3 linked regions of the Homo sapiens genome follow. The protein of the gene in region 1 interacts with the protein of each later gene in a biochemical or structural test. Each region holds a gene or a part of one and is shown in the gene's direction. Other genes may lie near its edges. The genes, in order: PRKCZ, PAWR and PPP1R14A.

What was found.
Region 2: the proteins of PRKCZ (region 1) and PAWR form a complex in vitro, tested with the Homo sapiens proteins (one study listed by BioGRID).
Region 3: the proteins of PRKCZ (region 1) and PPP1R14A form a complex in vitro, tested with the Homo sapiens proteins (one study listed by BioGRID).

The regions. Positions count from the first base shown.
Region 1 is NC_000001.11:2,048,617-2,052,363, forward strand, and holds the start of PRKCZ (protein kinase C zeta type), read left to right. Parts: upstream 1-1,794; 5' UTR 1,795-2,014; coding exon 2,015-2,085; intron 2,086-2,139; exon of another isoform or gene 2,140-2,396; intron 2,397-3,747. UniProt on the Homo sapiens protein: Calcium- and diacylglycerol-independent serine/threonine-protein kinase that functions in phosphatidylinositol 3-kinase (PI3K) pathway and mitogen-activated protein (MAP) kinase cascade, and is involved in NF-kappa-B activation, mitogenic signaling, cell proliferation, cell polarity, inflammatory response and maintenance of long-term potentiation (LTP).
Region 2 is NC_000012.12:79,621,246-79,624,992, reverse strand, and holds part of PAWR (PRKC apoptosis WT1 regulator protein), read left to right. Parts: intron 1-3,747. UniProt on the Homo sapiens protein: Pro-apoptotic protein capable of selectively inducing apoptosis in cancer cells, sensitizing the cells to diverse apoptotic stimuli and causing regression of tumors in animal models.
Region 3 is NC_000019.10:38,255,007-38,258,753, reverse strand, and holds the start of PPP1R14A (protein phosphatase 1 regulatory subunit 14A), read left to right. Parts: upstream 1-2,379; 5' UTR 2,380-2,414; coding exon 2,415-2,615; intron 2,616-3,747. UniProt on the Homo sapiens protein: Inhibitor of PPP1CA. Has over 1000-fold higher inhibitory activity when phosphorylated, creating a molecular switch for regulating the phosphorylation status of PPP1CA substrates and smooth muscle contraction.

The DNA.
Region 1 (3,747 bases):
AAGATGGAGTGGGGGAAGACGTCAGCTGAGAGGCTCATTAGGAGGATGCCTGGGGCTGGGTGAGTGTTGGTTGGGAGCTCAGGGGGCCCATCTGAGCTGGGGATGCAAAGCGGGCCAAAGGCTGAGGCTGGGGCTCCACAGTTTTAAAAGCTGCAGACCAGGAGGGCGAGGGATGGGAGATTTAGGGAGCTGGAACCCGGGGCCAGGGATGTGTGAGCCTTCCCAGGAGGGGTCTGATACCAAAGGCCAAGTTAAGAAAATGTCTGAGGCCGGGCACAGTGGCTCACGCCTGTAATCCCAGCACTTTGGGAAGCCAAGGCAGGTGGATCACCTGAGGTCAGGAGTTCGAGACCAGCCTGGCCAATATGGAAAAACCCCGTCTCTACTAAAAATACAAAAATCAGCTGGGCATGGTGGTGGACACCTGTAATCCCAGCTACTTGGGAGACTGAGGCAGGAGAATGGTTTGAACCCAGGAGGCAGAAGTTGCAGTGAGCCGACATCATGCCATTGCACTCAGCCTGGGCAGCAAGAGCGAAACTCCATCTCAAAAAAAAGAAAAAGAAAGAAAAAAAGAGAAAACGTCTGAGAACCGACGGCTTGTATTTAAAACGTGTGAGTGGGTGGTGGCAGGAGAGGTAGACAGGGAGCAGGGCCGGCTTGGCGGAAGCTTTGCTGTAGAGAGGGGCAGAGATGGCTCGGTGGGTGGAGGGAGGGGCAAACGGTGTTTAAGAAGAAAAAACGACAGCTTCTGCGTAGGAGAGGGGCCTCCTGTCCATCTCCAGGGAGAACATGGGTTCTGTGGCCACAGGTCTCCCCAGGGCCTGGCATCAAGGAGGCGCCAGGCACGACCTGCGGGATGAAAGCACGTGGCTGAAGTCCTGGTGGCTGTGTCTGGGTGAGGGGTGTGAGGGCGTGGCCTGAGCAGGTCCACTCTCAGGGGAGAGGGGCCGAGGCCAGGAACTGGGTCTGGGTGTCCACCTGGTGCCTGGGTGAGGTCCTGCAGGCAGCAGGTCTGGGCTTCAGTGGATGCAGCCAGTAAGGGATGGGCTGATCAGGGAAAACCGTATTTTCAGGGGAGGAGCCCAGGAGGCAGGGAGCTGGGCGGCGGTGGAGGGGCCTGGAGGGCGATTGTCCAGATCAAGCCCCTCGAGTAAGGCCCGAGAGGCTGTGGCTTCAGAAATGAAGGTCATGGGCGACTCGGGCCAATGCCGCGTCCTTGACCTGGGCGAAGTGAGCGGTTGCACTCACGAGTGTGGACGGCCCTTCCCTACAGGGGACCTTGGATTCGCTGGGGGCGGAGTGGGGGCTGGGGCCCAGAGAACCCGAGTCCGGACGCTCCCGTCCGTGACCCTGGCCGGGTTCTCCGCTCCTCGCAGCTTCAGTCCGCAAGTGTGAGATGTCAGGGGACCCCTGGACGGCGGGGCCCTCGGGCTGGCAGCGCGCGCCGCAGGAGTTTCGATTCGGAGGGTCTGGGCGAAGGCCGAGAACTCGCGTTTCCAGCGAGTTCCCGGGGGCGCCGCTCCGTCCCAGAGGCCGGGGCCCCTCCGGTTGCCGGGCAGAGCCGCGCCGCGCGCGGTCCCATTGGCGCAGGTGCGCCGCGCCCCGCCCAACAGGTAGCCCCGCCCGACAGGTAGCCCCGCCCGCGCCTCGCCATTGGGCCGCGGCCGGGTGTCCCCCGAGGATTGGCCCAGGTGGCGGCCCCGCCTCGCCCTCATTGGCCGCAGGTGCCACCGCCCGCCCCGGGACCGCCCGCCCCGCGGATTGGCCGCTGGCTCCACCTCGGTCCGCCATGTTCGGACACCGCCCCCCGCCCCCGCCGGACGGTCCCGCCCCGCGCGCCCCCCGCTCCCGCCCCGCGCGCCGCCGGAGTTCCGCGGAGTTGACCGGGTCGGCGCCGTCGGTCCTGAGCGCTGCCTTCCGCGTTCCGCCGCGGCCCCACCTGGAGCCCCCGCCCCGCGCCATGGCCGGAGCTCCCGGGGCGCAGCGCTGACGGCGGCGGGGGGAGCGCGCCATGCCCAGCAGGACCGGCCCCAAGATGGAAGGGAGCGGCGGCCGCGTCCGCCTCAAGGCGCATTACGGGGGGTGAGCGGCGGAGAGGGCGGGGAGCGGCGCGGGTGAGGCAGGGAGGGCGGGGAGGGCTCAGCCGTCGGGGCTCCTGCGCGAGAGGGAGAGAGGGAAGGGGCGGCGAGGTCGCTGCGGGCCCGGGGCTGTCGCGGGAGGTCCTCGGTCCCCGCCCGTGAGCGTCACCCGCGGACACGTCGTGGACAGCGCGGGCTCCTTCCCCGGGACCGGGTTTCCCTGGGGTCGGCCCCGCGCCGCGAGCTCCTCGGCCCGGTCATTGTGGTAGACGTTTTCGCTGGAAAGTTGGGCGGGGACGTTCCGGCCGCAAACCTGTAAGGACTGAAAGTTTTCATCAAGTTGTGAAAACTCCTGGCGGGTTTCTTAAAATCAGCGTTTCCTAAACGTTCTCCACGTTTACCCGGTCGGGGGTCTCGCTTTAGCCAAAATCCGGAGACCCGGGGCGCGGGCGCTGTGGCTCCAATGCAGCCCCCGGCAGGGCTCGGGGCGGTCGGGCGGGGACAGGGGTTTCTGGAGGAGACGGTGGGGCCGAGACTGACCCTGGGGTTTGCGTCGCACCCGCCCCCCGGAGGCCCTTGCCTGGCTGTGGGAGGGGGCGCGGTCAGGTGCTGGAGCGGAGGGGTCCTGGACTCTTGGCCGCCGCCTCGGGGCAGCGCTGCTGGGGGTGGCGGGGGCTGCACCAGGTGGCCGGGCTCACAGGCACAGCGGAGGGGTCGCTGCCCCCCGAAGTGTGGGCGGTGGGGAGGGGAGGACCCGTGGGTTTGTTCTTCCACCTGTGCGCGTCTCCAGGAGCCCCGAACTGGGACCTCCGCTCCCGCGAGGGTGGCTGCTGCTGCAGAGAGGGAGGGGAGCAGAATGCGGGCTCCGGACTTGCACTGGCTGGTCCTTGGGATCTCGAAAAGCTGCTCCTGCCCCGGTGCGTCCTCAGCTACAGCGTGGGCAACCTGAGCCCCAGAGGCAGGGACGGCCGGCAGGGTTAGGCGGGTGACAACTTCCCCGGGCCACGTCCTCTCAGGACAGTGCCCCGGGGGTCTCTATGGTGCCCTGCGAGTCTGAGCGGGTTCAGCTTCCTGCGAACCTTGTCTTGGGGTCTCGGGTCAGCCATCTGGGGCTGCTTGGCCCCGGGTTTGTTGAGGAGGCTCAATTGTCTCTTCTTTGGGAAGGTTGGGGCCTCTGCAGCTCCCCTGTGGCAAGCACCTGGAACCTTCGGGGTGCAGTGGCCCGGGTTTGGTGCCAGAACCAGAAGAAAGGGATTTCTGGGGGACTGACCGTCCAGCCCTACCTGAAGAGGTAGGGCAGCCATGTCTTTTGGCCTGGAGGTCAGCAGGTTAAAACTTGGTATGGTTGACGTTCTGGCTATTGGACTTGTCCAGGGACCTGGGCTTCCTGTCTCCTTGCCATTCTGGAGCCACCACACTGGGCAACAGGTGATGGTGCGGAGCTCAGGGGAGTCCTGCGAGAGGGAGGTCCACACCCGAGGGGCTGCAGGGGCCCAGACCCTCCTGCATTCCGGCGTCCAATTCCTGGGACCAAGGCTCGGAGGCAATGCCACTGGAGTTCTGGGCCGCCCCGTCCTCCCTCTGCCTTGCTTTGGCCCCTGGGAGCACTTTGGTGGTGGGGCGGGTGTAATTCCACCCGGTGACTCTGGTTTCCCAGGCTGGAGAG
Region 2 (3,747 bases), on another chromosome or scaffold:
AATACCTGCCAAATTGACATATTCATTTACCTTGTGAGCCAGCAATCCTAATACTAAGAATCTATCCAGGAAATCCATTGCATATATACAGAAACTATATATATAAGCCTTTCTAACACATTTTTCTTAGAGCGTGTAAAAAACCCAAATGTTCATCAATAAAGCTCTGATTAAAATATGGTAGGTACATCTATTTAATAAAATTATTATGCAGCTGAAGAAAGGAATGAGGAGAATCCACTTCTCTTAAGTATGGCAGATACAGGAATTCTCTTATTTCTCATGATTTCCGCCAACTTCTTCCTCCAGATGTATTTATCCCAGTTAGAAAAGATTGCTTAAGAATTTCTAGGATGCTTGTTATCAAAAGAACTGCACTGGTTGCTAGCAGAATTTTGGAGAGAAGTTGTGATTCATCAAGTAATCCTATACTAAAAGCTGCCTGGAACGTTAGATACATACTGTATCCACAGGGATACTATGTGTGATGAATAGGTTCCCAGTTCAGTGGATAGCAGTGTTGCCATGGGAAAGAGCATTCAGAATTTTAACTTCAGGTATCACAGTTCACCTTCCAGTTCATCTCCAAGATGATTTGTCTCATCTTGGTAACTCATTCATTGTTTTATGAAACATTTACCGAGTGTTTTGTTTCTTCCTTTCTTTTTTCTTTTAATATACTGGTAAGGGAGTCTAGTTGAGGGGGCAGGAGGAGGGAAAGTTAGTGTTGTGGGGCTGGGTCTCAGAAAATGAAAACAAAGACAAATAAAATAGCATCCCAGTGCTCTGGGAGTGCGTGGCTACCTGCCTCAACTTTTGCTTTCTGTTAATATTAATCTATGATAATTTAAGAATTCCAACTTTAAGCTAATGATGTTGGAGCCTAGGTGAGGGATTTTTGAGTCCATATGCTGGAGAATAAGTGATGATTGCTTTCACACAGTAGAAGACTAGAGATGAGACCATTCTTTATTCTTTTCCAGATCTCATACTTTTGCTTCTCCTACTGTTCATTAAATGATTGACCTCTCCTCCCCCTTTTAAAGCAACTCCTTGATTTAAAATGCCTTTTATGCTATTTTATTCTTTCTGTTCTAGGACCTCTATCAGGTATTTTTGTTATTGTAGTTTTATACATTTTAACATTAACTAGAGTGTTTGGTCATACCTCTTTTTTAAAAAAGTAATTTTTTTGATATCTTATGTATTTTTTCTTCCAGATGATGCACCACTACTTTCCAAATAAATTTCTTCATGATTTTGATTGGAATTTTAATTTATGTGTTAAGAGACTGTTGACACCTTCACAATACTAGATTTTTCTTAAGAGCAGGTTTTAATTTGTATTCTTCAGTAAAGTCTTATAGCTTTTTTCATGCACGTACTGTTTTTTAGTTTTTTAATGGTTGTTACTAAAAATTTTGTAACTGGCTATTGATGTTACTTTGGGAAATTTTTTGCTTATTTACTGAAAAAAATCTTAACTCATAATTCTAAAATGTTTTTGTTTTTTACAAAATCATTTCCTCTGATGGTAATTTTGCCTCCTTTCTAATGTTAAAATCGCCTATTCTTCTTACCTAGTTCTATCAACTAGCACTTTCAGAATGATGTTAACAATTATGTTAATAGTGGACATCAATGTCTTGAGTCTGATTTTACTTTAAATTTTGCTGGTATGTTGTCATTAAACAAGATATTGTCTAGTGATTTGAGAAAGTTTTTGAAAGTCCTGAGAGAGATTTTTTTTTTCTAATAAGGACTAATTTCTTAACACTTTGGTGTCCCATACCAGATTTCTTTCACTGACTCTGTTTCCACCTATGATATATCATTTTTCATAGGATACAATTGCCTATGTCATTTAACTAGTCACTTAACTAGTCTTTTCACTTTTGGTCTTGTTCCTGTTCTCTGCATTGCTATTTCCAGGTTCTTCCCAAAAAGAATTTTGATCATTCCTTATCCCAAGGAACTGTATAGCATTGTAACATCATTCCAAGCTATGGAGTGAGAAGTCTAAACTTCTTGGGTTATCTATTATTTATGTTCCCTCTATGCCTTTCGAGTCCTCACTTTTGTCAAAAACTGTAATGGCTTTGAGATCATACCCCACTTGCTGGCTAACACGTTAGCTTGTGTATGCTGGCAAAAGATACTAGTCTCCTGGGTTAGTTAGAGTCAAGAACAGTTTAGACTCAGCAATAACAGTAGCTACAGTATCATAATTTTCTTGTGCTGTTTCCCCAAGCCCCACTCTTGGCAGGTTGATATGACAAGGGCCAGGTGACACCAAATCTCAACCTGCATGCTCCTTTCATTTGCCCTTTCCATTTCTGTCCTCAGACTTCTCTGTATCATCCTAATGTTGTAAGACTCCATCTCAGCTAGAAACCATCATTCTGAGCAAACTATCACAAGGACAGAAAACCAATCACTGCATATTCTCACTCGTAGGTGGGAATTGAACAATGAGAACACTTGGACACAGGGTGAGGAACATCACACTCTGGGACCTGTCGTGGGGTTGGGGGAGAGGGGAGGGATAGCGTTAGGAGATACACCTAATGTAAATGACGAGTTAACGGGTGCAGCACACCAACATGGCACATGTATACATGTGTAACAAACCTGCACATTGTGCACATGTACCCTACAACTTAAAGTATAATAATAATAAAAAATAATAAAAAACACTCCATCTCAGACAGATGCTTTCTTCCATGTCCTCCATTGTAGACCTTGTCTTTATCAAGCTTGGTACCCCTTTCAGTATGTTCCTCCTATCTCCAAATATTCCAGTGCACCTTCTTGGTTTGCACAATGGCTTCAGTGTTTTCTTCTCTCTGCACAACTTTTTTTTTTTGTCCAATTCCTATTGTCTTCACTGCCATACTGTTATACTTTGCTGTGATCAGTTCCTTAGTGTCTCTACAAAGAGGTGTGTGGTTTTTTTTGTTTTTGTTTTTGTTTGTTTATTTGTTTTTGTCTGGAGGGGGTGTGAGTTCTCATGCAGAAACCTTTAGGGCAGTGTATTGGTTAGGAATGTATTCAGTTGCAAGGAACGGATAACCCAGCCCATGATGTGTATAATGGATAGAGATTTGTTTCTATTTTGTTTTTCTTATGTAGAAAGTGTAGAGTTAGATAATTTCTAGTGTTGCTTCTGTTTTTTAGCAGCCTTCTCTTGTAAGCTTTTCCAATATGCTGTTACATGTGTAATTCTCTTTTTTTATATATCTGCAATTCCAAATTGTAGCCATTCTTTAAATTACAAGATTTTTTATAGTCTTTTCTAACTCTCCAGGTAAAAATACTCTTCCTTTATATGCTCATAGAATATAAAGCTAGAAACTGGGCCTTTATCACTAAGTTATCTATCTATCTATATATATGTATTATCTTTCCTACTAGATTATAAATTCCATTTCTTTAATGCATCCTTTGTTACCTTCTGCAGAATGCCTTGTTTAAGGTAGACGTAGTTTACTTATTGAATGAATGATAAAGAATGAATAAACCTTTCCTTTAAGAAAACCCTGTCACTGATGTTTGGAGTTTAGGGAAAAGATTTGTTGGCAGTGGTGTGGATATGGAAGTACAAGTTTTAAGCAGATAATTTATAGGAATTAAATGTACATATTGCTGAAAGAAAAATACTTTTATTATGCAAACTAATTTCTGAATGCACAAATATTTCTTTAATACTATCAATATATTTTCACATATTATCGAAACAGTCTATTA
Region 3 (3,747 bases), on another chromosome or scaffold:
CCAGTGCACTCCAGCCTGGCCAACAGAGCGAGATTCTGCCTCAAAAAAAAAAAAAAAAAAAAAAAAAAACACAGTCTTATTGAGATATAACTCACATACCATACAACTCACCCTTTATTTATTTAGAGATGGAGTTTCACTTTTGTTGCCCAGGATGGAGTGCAATGGCATGATCTCAGCTCACTGCAACATCCCCCTCCCAGGTTCAAGCGATTCTCCTGCCTCAGCCTCCTGAGTAGTTGGGATTATAGGCATGTGCCCCCATGCCCAGCTAATTTTTGTATTTTTAGTGGAGATGGGGTTTCACCATGTTGGCCAGGCTGGTCTCTAACTCTTGACCTCCGATGATCCATCCGCCTTGCCCTCCCAAAGTGCTGGGATTACAGGCGTGAGTCACTGTGCCTGGCCCAACTCACCTTTTTAAAGTGTATAGTTTGGCCAGGTGTGGTGGCTCGTCCCAGCACCTTATGAGTTTCATGACTGCAATTTTTTTCCTCCCATTCCATGGGTTGTCTCTTCACTTTCTTGATGATGTTCTTTGAAACTCAAAAGTTTTACATTATGGCTGGCTGGTGGAGTGAGGTGGCTCATGCCTATAATCCCAGCACCTTGGGAGGCCGAGGTGGGAGGATCGCTTGAGCCCAGGAATTGGAGAACAGCCTAGGCAACATAGGGAGACCCTGTCTCTACAATTTTTTTTTTTTTTTTTGAGATGGAGTCTTGCTCTGTCACCCAGGCTGGAGTGCAGTGGTGCGATCTTGGCTCACCGCAATCTCTGCCTCCTGGGTTCAAGCAATTTTCCTGCCTCAGCCTCCCCAGTAGCTGCAATTACAGGTGCACACCACTACGCCTGGCTTTTTTTTTTTTTTTTTTGTATTTTTAGTAAAGATGGGGTTTCATCATGTTGGCCTGGCTGGTCTTGAATTCCAGACCTCGTGATCTGCCCACCTCGGCCTCTCAAAGTGCTGGGATTACAGGCATGAGCCACCATGCCTGGCCTTTTTAAAAAAATTATTTATTATTATTTTATTTATTTATTTATTTTGAGACAGAGTCTCGCTCTTGTTGCCCAGGCTGGAGTGCAATGGTGCTATCTTGGCTCACTGCAACCTCCACCTCCCGGGTTCAAGCGATTCTCCTGCCTCAGCCTTCCGAGTAGCTGGGATTACAGGCATGTGCCACCAGGCCCAGCTAATTTTTGTATTTTTAGTAGAGATGGAGTTTCACCATGTTGGCCAGGCTGGTCTTGAACTCCTGACCTCGTGATCCACCCTCCTTGGCCTCCCAAAGTTCTGGGATTACAGGAGTGAGCCACTGCGCCCAGCCACATTTAAATTTTAGAGTATAATTATTGCTGCTTATAATTAGAAGTGAGAAGACTGTTTTGAAGTAAGGGACTTCCCTGGCCACCCTCGCTAAAATTGCAACCTTACCCTCACTCCATTTCTCCTTCTCTGCTTTATATTTCTCCAAAGCACTTATATGATAATAAACTGTATAATACCGTACTTACTGTGTTTCTCATGTATCCCGGCTACAACTGTCAACTGCGTGGGACTGGTTTTGTCTGTTTTGTTCCCTGCTCTATCCCTGGAGCGTAAAGCAGTGTCTGGTATAGAGTGGATACTTAATAGATATTCGTTGAACCGGGCCAGTGGCGGTGGCTCACGCCTGTAATCCCAGCACTTTGGGAGGCGGAGGCAGGCAGATCACTTGAGGTCAGGAGTTCGAGGCCAGCCTGGCCAACATGGCGAAATCCCGTCTCTACTAAAAATACAAAAATTAGCCGGGTGTTGTGGTGCATCCCTGTAATCCCAGCTACTTCGGAGGCTGAGGCAGGAGAATCGCTTGAACCTGGGAGGCGGACGTTGCGGTGAGCCGAGATCGCGCCATTGTACTCCAGCCTGGGCGACAAAGAGAGACATCGACTCAAAAAAAAAAAAATTCGTTGAACGGAATGAGTGAACAAACAAATGGATGGATGAGTGAATGAATGAACGAAGGAACAAGTGACCGCTCGACCTTCTACAGCGACAGCGGCGCAGGCGCTCCCGCACCAACAGCCCCCCACCCCGCCACCGCCAGAGGGCGCAGACAGGCCGGGTCCCGAGTGTCTGTCCCAGGCCCCCGCCCCACAGGATCCCGGCCCGGGAGCCCCCGATGCAGGGACCCGCCCGGGACTCTGGGTCCCCGCCCATACCTCAACTTCGCACGACTGCGTGCCTCAAGCCGACGCAGCGGCCTACTCTCGCACTGCAGACGGGGAAACTGAGGCCTGAGGCGGCCGGGGTGGGGCAGACCTCCCGGCGAGCCCGAGCCCCCGCCCCCGGCTAGCCCCGCCCTGGCCCGTAAGAAGCACCCGGGGCGCGAGGCGAAGGCGCACAGCGCGGGGCCAGGCTGGGTCCAGCAGCGCGATGGCAGCTCAGCGGCTGGGCAAGCGCGTGCTGAGCAAGCTGCAGTCTCCATCGCGGGCCCGCGGGCCAGGGGGCAGTCCCGGGGGGCTGCAGAAGCGGCACGCGCGCGTCACCGTCAAGTATGACCGGCGGGAGCTGCAGCGGCGGCTGGACGTGGAGAAGTGGATCGACGGGCGCCTGGAGGAGCTGTACCGCGGCATGGTGAGCCCGGGGAGGGCTCGGGGGTGGTCGGGGACAGATAGAGCCCGGGCGCGGAGACCCCACGCCCTTGGGGTCTCGGTGCACACTCGCTGGTGCACGGCCAGCCTGGTCTGCACAAGAGGACGAGCGCCCCAGGGCCGGGCACTCATTGGCCTGGCCATCCGTGCTCTATGGCATTGTGCTTGTGGACACACCGAGAGCAACACACAAAGACTTGGGTCTCCAGAGATGTGTCCAAACGCCTGTGGAGGGCCAGGGGTTTAGCATGAGGAGGGAGGAGGCTAAGTTGAGCTGAAACCGCCACGTCTGGAGAAAGAGTGGGGGAAGGGGGGTGTCATAAAGCCAAACACAGACATGGTGACAGGGGAGATACAGCCACACAGAGACCCACGGCAAAGGAAGCAAAAGCAGACACAGATGTGCACAGTGAAGGAAGCTATAGCCACTCACGGACACAGCCCAGAAGTAACAGCCATGCACAAACCCACAAGGACACAAGCGGGGGCTGGGGGGGGGTCACCTACAGTTCAACATATGCTACAGTCACAGCCACCCGCAGACACAGCGGCATGGGCCACAGCCGTAGGCAGACACAGCACAACCCCACTGGAACACAAAATGACTCAAGTTACGGCCCTTCCTTATCTCCTAAAGAAAAAACTGACCACCTTCAAGCACAAGCGCTGATCCGCAGCCACTCAAAGACATAAAACAACAGAAATTGGCCCAGCACAGTGGCTCACGCATTTTGTGAGGCCGGGGCAGGAGGATTGCTTGACGTCAGGAGTTCAACACCAGCCTGGGCAACATGGGGAAAACCTGTCTCTACCAAAAATCTTAAAACTTAGCCGGGCGTGGTGGCATGCACGCACTTGTAATCTCAGCTCCTCAGGAGGCTGAGGTGGGAGGATTGCTTGAGCCTGAGAGGCCAAGGTCACAGTGAGCCAAGATTGCACCACTGCACTCCAGCCTGGGCAACAGAGCGAGACCGTGTCTCAAAAACAAACAAAACCCAACAGAATTTATAACTACACCCAGACATAAAACTGTGTAAGCACCGGGCACGGTGGCTCACGCCTGTAATCCCAGCACTTTGGGAGGCCGAGGCGGGCGGATCACCTGAGGTCAGGAG